Homo sapiens: one gene and its partners. The protein of the gene in region 2 purifies or fractionates together with the protein of the main gene of each other region. This does not show direct contact. Each region holds a gene or a part of one and is shown on either strand. Other genes may lie near its edges.

The links. Proteins that work in one complex are often made in the same cells at the same time.
Region 1: the proteins of BACE1 (region 2) and SORT1 purify together in Homo sapiens (affinity purification with western blotting; one study listed by BioGRID). This does not show direct contact.
Region 3: the proteins of BACE1 (region 2) and USP10 purify together in Homo sapiens (affinity purification with western blotting; one study listed by BioGRID). This does not show direct contact.

What each region holds. Positions count from the first base shown.
Region 1 is NC_000001.11:109,324,919-109,328,418, forward strand, and holds part of SORT1 (sortilin isoform 1 preproprotein), read right to left. Parts: intron 2,684-3,500; coding exon 2,581-2,683; intron 2,243-2,580; coding exon 2,074-2,242; intron 172-2,073; coding exon 1-171.
Region 2 is NC_000011.10:117,295,757-117,299,256, forward strand, and holds part of BACE1 (beta-secretase 1 isoform A preproprotein), read right to left. Parts: intron 1,206-3,500; coding exon 1,117-1,205; intron 1-1,116. UniProt on the Homo sapiens protein: Responsible for the proteolytic processing of the amyloid precursor protein (APP).
Region 3 is NC_000016.10:84,759,000-84,762,499, reverse strand, and holds part of USP10 (ubiquitin carboxyl-terminal hydrolase 10), read right to left. Parts: intron 3,138-3,500; coding exon 3,028-3,137; intron 2,610-3,027; coding exon 2,554-2,609; intron 2,329-2,553; coding exon 2,225-2,328; intron 1-2,224. UniProt on the Homo sapiens protein: Hydrolase that can remove conjugated ubiquitin from target proteins such as p53/TP53, RPS2/us5, RPS3/us3, RPS10/eS10, BECN1, SNX3 and CFTR.

The DNA of each region.
Region 1 (3,500 bases), on a different chromosome or scaffold from region 2:
TTAAAATCAATGGTGTAGGAGACCCACTGGCTGGTCAGGAAAGATTCTGTGAAGCCCCAAATGCTGATATTCATGGACCTAGCTCCAGGTTCTGAAGCTAGGCCAGTGAAATAGATGGGGTCCCTGGTGAACGTGTAGGTTTGCCAGCATTGACCTTCGTCTGTGGAGAACCTGAAACCACAATTACAGAAAGATCATGACAGAGGATCAATGTGTACTGGGAATTCAGAAAACCACTCTGGCTTTTTGATCCCAAACCAGACAAAACCCCTTACATTTAGGTGGTGGCTTATTGGCTGACAATTATTTTAACTTTTTTTTTTTTTTTTTTTTTTTCTGAGATGGAGTCTCACTCTGTCACCGGGCTGGAGTGCAGTGGCGCGATCTCGACTCACTGCAACCTCTGCCTCCTGGGTTCAAGTGATTCTCTCTCATGCCTCAGCCTCCTGAGTAGCTGGGATTACAGGAACGTGCCACCACACCAGCTAATTTTTGTATTTTTAGTAGAAATGGAGTTTCACATGTTGGGCAGGCTGGTCTTGAACTCCTGACCTCAGGTAATCTTCCCACCTTGGCCTCCCAAAGTGCTGGGATTATAGGCGTGAGCCACCGCACCCAGCCAACTATTTTAACTTTTAACGTCTGTAGTTAACAGGATAAGGAAGAGATTTGTTCAGAGAGAATATGAAAGTAAATACCTTTACAGAAATTATTTCAAAGGAAAGACAGGAGAGTGACCCAGGTAAGAACTGGCTTTTAAATTAATAAATTTAAGGCTGGCTGTGGTGGCTCACGCCTGTAATCCCAGAATTTTGGGAGGCTGAGGCAGGTGAATCACCTGAGGTTAGGAGTTCGAGACCAGCCTGACCAACACAACAAAACCCCGTCTCTACCAAAACACAAAAAACAAAGCAAAACAAAAAACCACAAAAATTAGCTGGGTGTGGTGGTGCATGCCTGTAATCTCAGCTGCTCAGGTGACTGAGACGCAAGAATCATTTGAACCTGGGAGGCAGAGGTTGCAGTGAGCCAAGATTGCACCATTGCACTCCAGCCTGGGTGACAAGAGCAAAACTCCATCTCAATAAATAAATAAATAAATAACAATCAAATTATTTTATAAGAACTTATACTTCTTTTTTTTTTTTTTTTGAGACGGGATCTCACTCTGTCACCCAGGCTGGAGTGCAGTGGTACGATCTCAGCTCACTGTGGCCTTGACCTCCTCAGGTGATCCTCCCACCTCGGCCTCCCAAGTAGCTGGAACCAAAGGCGTGCACCACCACGCCCAGCTAATTTTTCTTTTTTTTTTTTTGTGGAGACAGGGTTTTGTCACATTGCCCAGGCTGGTCTTGAACTCTTGGGCTCAAGCAATCCACCCACCTTGGCCTCTCAAAGTGCTGGGATTACAGGTGTGTGCCTCTGCACCCAGCTCAGAACTTGTACTTAAGAAGTCATTTTCAATCTAGAGTGCTTGAACGCTTCCATAATAATTTTGTAGACAGAAAGAATATATATATATATATATATATATATATATATATATACATACACACACACACACACATATATATACACACATATATACACACATACACATATATATACACATATATATACATATATATACACATATATATACACACACACACATACATATATACACACACACATATATATATATATGGTTTTTTTTTTGATTGAAATAATATTAGAGACAAGGGACAAGGTCTCCCTATGTTGCCCAGGCTGGTCTTGAACTCCTGGCCTCAAGCGATCCTCCTGCTTTGGCCTCCCAAAATGCTGGGATTACAGGCATGAGCCACTGCGCCCAACCCAGAAAGAATGTTTTTAAGAAGTGACAAATATGTTAGCTAAAGGCAGTCAGAAGAAAAAACAATGCCATTTAATCTGAGTTGCCAATTAAAAGCAATCCTTTCTAGAATCTTATCTATAGTTCTGTCAAATGCAAAAATTTGAATTATAGTCTGTAACATCCCCCCAATAAACTGAAGAACATTCCCCCAGTTGCCCTCTATGCAGACAGTGTGTGTGAGATGAGTTCATGCATACTTAATCACATTGATAGGACGGCTGCTGTGCTCAATGGCCACAATGATGCCTCCAGAATCCAGGATGGTGTAATAGTGGGGTCCTTCCAGCATCTTTGTCCAGGAGTAACCCCCATCATCTGAGATGTACACATCTGGAACCATCACTGAGATGGCATCCCCCACGCTACCTGCAATATAATCCACCATCTCATTAGCACAAATAGGCAATGAAACAGAGAGCATTTACTCCAGAGAGAATAATGTTGAATGAATTTATTCTGATTATTTCCCATCAAGCCTCTTTTAGTAGGAAAGAAAACCACCAAAAACTTCGGAGAAGTTGTGTTGCTCTCTCTGATAAAAGTTGATGAAAAACCCAAAGTGTTGTTATAATGTAAGAAATTCTACCAAAGGAATGTAAAAGCATCCACATTGTTTCTTCTCAGAGCGTTCAAAGCCTGTTGGCTGAGTTTCAGTGTGCTCAGCCACTGTTCCAGTTGGAGGTGGTGAGTGGGAGGTTCCTTACCATGAGCAATGACAATGCCTACGGCATTCGGCTCTGAGAGTGGGGCCATTGGAACATTCAGTTTCTGGGAGATGCTGTAGGAAGCATGAATATGAAGGCTGCACTGTGAAAAGAAACAAAAGCGTAGATTAGAACCAAAGATAAAGATACAATTTCTTTAATCATTTCACAAAACCCTTCCAATAAAGCTTTAAGTTAACCCAGACCTAGGTAAAAGTACTATCTTAACTATTTATTTACTATTTAGGTGTATAGTTCAGTAGTGTTAAGTATATTCACATTGTTGTACAACCACATCTCTAAACTTTTTCATCTTATAAAATACAATCACCAATTAAGCAACTGTTACCTACTTCTTCCTCCTCCCAGCTCCTGGAAACTACCATTTTACTTTGTGTTTTCTATGATTTTTACCATATTACTTTGTGTTGGCTACTCTAGGTAGCTCATATAAGTAGAATCACATAATATTTGTCATTTTGTGTCTGACTTATTTCACTTGGCATAATGTCCTCAAGGCTCATCCATGTTGTATTAATAGCATATGTCAGAATTTCCTCCCTTTTAAAGGCTAAATATTATTTAAGTGTGTGTGTGTATCTGTATCCACACACACCCCACACTTTATTTACTCATTTATCTGTCAATAGACACAAGTTGCTTCTACCTTTTGGCTATCATGAATAATGTTGCTATGTACATGGTTGTACAAATATCTTTTTGAGAACCTGCTTTCAACTCTTTTGGATGTATAATCCAGAAGTGGAATTGCTGGATATGATAATCCTATTTTTAATTTTTTTTAGGAACTACTATGCTGTTTTCTGTAGCAGCTGCACCATTTTACATTTTCACCAAAAGTGCACCAGGGCTCCAATTTCTCCATATCCTTGCCAACACTTTTTAAAATAGTAGCCACC
Region 2 (3,500 bases):
CATCCGAGTGGTAGAGAAAGTGCCAGGCAGGGTGAATGTGGAACCTCTACAGCAAGTTCTAGAGAAGGGGTTTGTTCAAGCATCTCAGAAAAGCAGGTTGGTATTACACACCACTTCTGTGAAACGTGCTCAACATGTGGCAGCCCCACCTGTGTTTAATCACACCACTAACCAGGGCTTCTGTGTGTGGTGGGGGCAGTGATGGAACTGGAACGAGGAACTGGAGTGAATGCCCTTTCATCGATCCTACCTGCACCCTCCTCCCTGACTGCTTCTTTTAGATTGGGACATTAGAGGAAACAGGGAAGGTGCGTTTTGCAGCTGCCTACAAGTCCAAGGATAGGATTTAAGCCTCTACTCACGTTTGCACACACTGATGTCTCAGATATTGGTGTCCTCTCATCCCTTCTTCTTCCTGCTTTTATGCTAAGGGGGCTTCCAGATTACCCCTCACTGCCTCTTATCTTAAAGCCCACTTCAACCCCCCTTTCACCAGTCCCCCACTTTCACCAGTCCTCTTCAACCCCCCTTTCACCAGTAAGCTGAATCCAACTGGTGGCACCCTGGGTGGTGCATGGAGGAGATATTTCAGCTTTCAGTTCTGATACTGGTCTAGGCAGAGGGGTTTATGAAAGACCCTTTCCTTCATGTCCTTGGACTATGCAAAGCCACCTAGAGTGGCCCCTGGGTAAGAACACAGCAAGGGGAGCCGTCACTGAGGCCTGTTCAGCTTAGACTTAGCTGGTGTTAGAGAACTGAGAGACACCGAGGGGATGTGGGGTTTTCGTCTCCCCATTCAGGCAGAGAAAATGGGCCCCCTAAGATTGTTCTGTGAGCTATGGGCTCTTCTTCCTTTCCCTCCCACAGGAGGCTGCCCTGTCTCAGCACTGAAGCACTTCCTGGCTACCTCTCAATTCACCCTTTCCCATGGTATAGCTCCTCTCACCACCCACTTCACCCTGTCTCTCCTGGTCACTGTCTTTTTTTCGCCCTTCCCCTTCCCTGGCAAGAAGAAAATCTGAGGATCAACTCTTTCTCTCTGTACCCCTCCCCTGACCCTTCTTAGCCCTGGATCCTTGGAAAAGGTACTTCCCCCGGGCTCTCCCCAGGACTCACAGCTGCCTCTGGTAGTAGCGATGCAGGAAGGGGTGGGGGGCAGCACCCACTGCAAAGTTACTGCTGCCTGTATCCACCAGGATGTTGAGCTGTCAGAGAAAGGGGAGAGAAAAGACAGTATAGACAGGAGGCTTCGGTCACACCACCTTTATTATCCCTCACGCCCCAGCCACAGTCTGCCCCTTAGAATGTCCAGAGTGAAGCTCCACGATGCAGGACTGGTCCAGGCTGGCACCCGTTACCACCACGACCACAGACAGGACCTGGGGTCCTGTGGTGCTGCAGGGGCCAAAGGAACACTTCCCCTGTGCCCTCTGCAGGTCTGCTGAAAAACCAACTGAAAAAAGGCAGATTAGTAGAAGAACTAATATGCAAGGGAGTCAAAAAAATATAGGAAGTCAAAGAGATAGCCAGATGGTTGATGATTTTATACCATCTTGAGGTTACAGAAAGAATGGGAGCTTGGGCAAGGTGCAGTGGCTTACCCCTGTAATCCCAGCACTATGGGAGGCTGAGGCAGGTGGATCACCTGAGGTGAGGAGTTTGAGACCAGCCTGGCCAACAGGACGAAACTCTGTCTCTACTAAAAATACAAAAATTAGCTGGACATGGTGGCACATGCCTGTAGTCCCAGCTACTCAGGAGGCTGAGGCATGAGACTCACTTGACCCTGGGAGGTGGAGGTTGCAGTGAACTGAGACCATGCCACTGCACTCCAGCCTGGGCGACAGAGACCCTGTCTCAACAACAAAAAAAAAAGGGACTTGGACTTTGGCAAAAATAGTTATGGGAGGGATAAACGGAGGCCAGGCCAGTAAAAGTGGTCTTTTTATATGAATGAAACCTCATAGGTAACACCCCTCAGAGAAAACAGGTGATGTATGTGTCTTTCAGACCTTTAAACATGTCAGACTTTCAGTTAATCTTTCCTAGATTTGGACCAGGGAGGGCCTCAGAGAAAGCCAGGTTGCATCAATGCAGATTCTCTGCAGATGCAAATCTCCCTCAAAAGCCAGATTTGCAGGGCCACTTCTGTGTGCTGGCCCTCTGACAGCCGACTCAAAATACGTCAAAGTAGTATATTCTGGGGTAAAATATCTTGGTTTCCTTTGGCACCCTCAACATGGCCTTAGAAATGCTGTGTCTGAGGCCAGCACAGTGGCTCACAACTGTAATCCCAACACTTTGAGAGGCTAAGGCGGGTGGATCACTTGAGGTCAGGAGTTCAAGACCAGCCTGGTGAATGTAGTAAAATCCCATCTCTACTAAAAATACAAAGATTAGCCGGGTGTGGTGACGCACGCCTATAATCCCAGCTACTTGGGAGGCTGAGGCAGGAGAATCACTTGAACCCAGGAGGCGGAGGTTGCAGTGAGCCGAAATTACACCACTGCACTCCGGCCTGGACGAGAGCAACACTCCGTCTCAAAAAAAAAAAGAAAAGAAAAGAAACGCTGTGTCTGCTTCAGTCTATGGAGTCATAACATTTTGTGCGTCATCTCAGAGCTATGTGGTGTGTGTGCTGTCTCTGTTCCCATGTCTCTCTACCGTCACATCACCCCTGCTCACTGTGTACCTGACTGATTCTGTCTTCAGGGCCCCCTGCTCCTTTTCAATTCTCCCAGGAAGCAGTCTGGCTTATCCCCTCCAGCTCAGAGAAGACCTATTCTAGGAGCTGTACTGGTCAGGGGACCTGTGGGGACCAGGATGGCACATCAGTGTCCATGCGTGTGGTTCTGTCCCTGCCACCAGAATGTGGCTCCCCTTCTGTCTCACAGGTGACACAGACCTAGGAATCCTACTGTCAGAAATAGTGGGGAGCCAGGAGCCCCATAAAATGTCCTGGTGAAAACCCATCTTGTCAGGGCCCTGGATTTGGCTAAGTGAAGATGGACAGGTGTCTTGGTGTTCCCTTCTGTCCAGCTCTTTCTAGCATCACTTCTTTTTTTTGAGATGGAGTTTCGCTCTTGTTACCCAGGCTGGAGTGCAATGGCGCGATCTCGGCTCACTGCCATCTCCGCCTCCTGGGTTCAAGTGATTCTCCTGTCTCAGTCTCCTGAGTAGCTGGGATTACAAGTGTGCGCTACCACGCAGGGCTAATTTTTGTATTTTTAGTAGAGACGAGGTTTCACCACGTTGGCCAGGCTGGTCTCGAACTCCTGACCTCAGGTGATCCACCTGCCTCGGCCTCCCAAAGTGCTGAGGCGTGAGCTACCATGCCCGGCCTCTAGCATCACTTCTCCTTGGCCCTTTCTTCCTCCTTTGATGGCCTGACCCCACCTTCAGTCAGACCAGAGCCATTTTTTGAAAGTCTACTATATCCTCACAGGCAAAAAAAGGAAAGGCCCCACCCTCAGAAAAATGGTAATTTGTAAGTTGCATCT
Region 3 (3,500 bases), on a different chromosome or scaffold from region 2:
AGGCTGGTCTCAAACTCCTGACCTCAGGTGACCTGCCTGCCTTGGCTTCCCAAAGTGCTGGGATTACAGGCATGAGCCACCACACCTGGCCACATTACCTTTATCACAAAAAAGTTATTTAAAAAAAAGTTTCTGTCTTGGGTAAACAAAATAGAAGACGAAGAACTAGATGTCTAGGGCCAGTTCACTGTTCAACTGCAAGGGTCACCACTCGAGCAATGAGCTAAGCAGCCCTATGTCTGCTTCTGTCTGTCTTTGATGATGGACAACTACATGGGAAAGAACTCAAACTACATGTGGAAAAACTCCACTGATTTAGAGCGTTAGCTGTGTTACACATACATCAGCAAAATCATTCACAGACGAGTCACCCAAGAGTTTAATAATCCCACATCACGAGTGTTTGATTCTGTTACTTATCATCAGTTCATATTTCATTCTTCACAGCACAACTGCCTATTCCAAGGCCCTGCAAATTGTTCTGTTTGAAGCATCTAGGTAAACTGCAAAGTTTACTTGCCCTCTCCAGATAGTAGACGTGGACAGCAGCTGTTCACGTGAGTGCATGCTCTGCACGTGTGCAGAAAAGGGCAAAAACTGGCACAGCCAAAGTGTGCTGAAGACTTTTCATAGCAGGCCTGGGTGGCTCTCCTTGGAAAGGCCTGCTTGCAAGGTTGCCCCTTGGCTGGTGTCTGGGAATTTGGATTTCAGAAAGGTTCCCATCGGTCCAATAACTGATACGGGATTCTGCCTAAACCGTTTGCGCAAGCAATGTGCTTTCTGCTGAACACTTTGCTTTTGTTTTGGGAGTTTGGACTTTTGGTTCAAGCCAGGCAGATGGTACCTATGGGACCAGCCCTCAGTAAAAACTCTGGACACGGAGTCTGTAATGACCTTCCCTGGTTGGCAGCATTTCACGTGTGGTCACAGTCTGGTGCTGGAGTAGTTACGCGTAGCCTTGTGGCCCCACTGGGAGAGGAGTCTGGAAGTTTCCTTTAGGCCCTGCCTCACCTGTCCTTTCCCTTCCTGACTCTGCTCCGCATGCTTTTGCTGTCAGCAACCATAGCCACGGGTATACCAGCTTCTGCATTTTCTGAGTTCTTCCAGTGAATCACCCAACCTCAGGGTGGTCTTGGGGAGCCCAACACATCCCCTATTAATGTAACCTTTAGAAGATGCTTTTGTTCATAGCATTATCTCTGTGCACGATCCAAGAGGGGTTCCTGAGCACCCACTTTATTTTGCCTCCACCTGTGCTAGGTGGGCCCCTCTGGGTTCTAAGGCATCTCTGTATCTTTGTGCTTCTCTTGTTGACTATTCATTAACTCATTCCCTCACTGAGGGCAGAGGGCGCACTTCATTCCATTTCTGCATCCCTAACACCATGTTCCCATTACTTGGGAAGTGCAAATTCCAAGCCAATACCAAAAGCTGCATTATAAGCATTTAAAAAGCTTAAGACCCTATGCTACCCCTGGTGGTATCCTGCAACGATGCCCTCGACATTCACTCTTCTTCAAAGCAATGAAGCTTCAAGTAAACTTGACTTAAATGGCATTTTCTCAACTATTTTTCTCTCTGAATACATTTCCCTAAGCATCATTTCAACTGCTTGTACTGATTCATCACAAACTCAATCTGGGAGGAAAGAAATGCTCCAGTTAACGGTGCTAAGGGCGGCCCAAGTCACTCTCAACAGCCCCAGGGCCTTTTATAAGGGCTCCCTGGCCCCTTGGTCTCATGCCTTTAGTAACAAAGTATGTGATTAAAAAAAAATTAGGTAAAGGAATCAAGTACATCAAATAGCTACTAAAGCCTGTAAGTATGATGAAGACATAAGCTCTTCTGAATACTGCCATCATTCCAGGCCCAGTGCACTCCATTCTACCCCAGTGGCATATAGTGCAGTGGTTAAGAGAACTGACTTGAAAGCTGGGTTCTGCCATGTACATTAGCTACCTGACCTCAGACAGTGGCTTCACTTCTCTTAACCGTAACAAGGAGACCATAATCATACTTTATTCAGAGTCAACTAAGTTAATATATGTAAAGTACTGAGAGCAGTGCTTGGTGCACCATATCATCCAAGCAATGGACTCTTATAAACCTACATCTACTTATAGCGCTGGAGACAGAGGGCAAATATCAATAAGCAACAGTTACCACACAAACACTGGAACAAAAGGCAACACTTGATACTAGTGACAACAGAGAAGTCTCAAACCTTTTCAGACAGGCTTGACTTGTTAACTGTCAGGAGTCTGTAAATATATGTGGGCTCAAAGGCAGCTCCAGGGCGAATATCCCTCACGATTTTATCTCCAAGAGCTGCAATGGAAAGAGGACACAGGTTTTCCTAACTACAATGAACTCATAAATGATGAAAAAAGCAACATCATCAAAACTCCCCCACCTCCCACCTGGCTGAATGTTGAGAATGGCATAGGTGTAAAGACACTATCTTCCCAACAAGACTGAATTTACCAAATTTAAGTCATCTGTCTCCATAACTCCCAATATGTAATAGCATCAACAAAACTCATTTTTACTAACCTTGTCGGGGTTTTGGAGGTACTGGCATATTAGTGAACTCATTCATTAGCCGAACACTAAACATGGGGAAAAAATGTTAAATAGTGCAGTTTTAAACAATATATACTTTTACTAAAGAGCTTTGATGGCTAAGTAGAATATCAGCTATACGAGTATAGTAGATTTTAGGTAACCAATGCTGTAACAGCTAGTGAACTCAAGTCTCTTCTATATGCATTTTTGGTCTATTTCAAGTGATATATGCTGGTAAACGCTAAAATATTTTCTACTGAATCTAAAGAACACAGATCATCAATGCTCCAATTCCATTTCTGGTTAACTTCCATATAAAATCGCCAACAGTCTATTTTTAAAAAAAGACAGAATTATAGGACTCATTTGCAGGAAATCAAGAGCTTTACTAAACTATTTCAATTCTAATTATCAGACGGGAAAAACCCCACCACTTAACACATCTTTCACCACCTTACTTACAAGCTGTCTATCATGGGTGTTGACGTACAAGGCCTTTGCACTTTGGAATACAGAGGAATGAACTTCATCAGGTGGTACATCGGCGGGCAAGCAACCAATGCCTGCAGTGTCTATGTAGTGGCAGTAAGGAAGCGTAAAGGAAATGAACAGACACACCACATTTCCTGAAGGCACATGAAGCACAAGAATGTTTATAAAAACACAAGGAAGCTAAGGACGTTGAACTACTTAGATATGTCACCACGAAAAGGAATAAACCAAATAGTTACTAGGGTAAGTGTCCTGTGATGTCCATATAAGGATCTACGAAGCAGTCAGTCGTTTGTATTCAAGAACTTGACCTAACCAAGACAGTTCAATCAGTTAAAACCAAATTTCCAGTTGTAAGTGGTTGCTCTGCCCTATTATTTGTGACTATTCTAATGAGAGCCAGCTTGTCTGCAGCCCTCATTCACGTGCCAACATATCCTCTC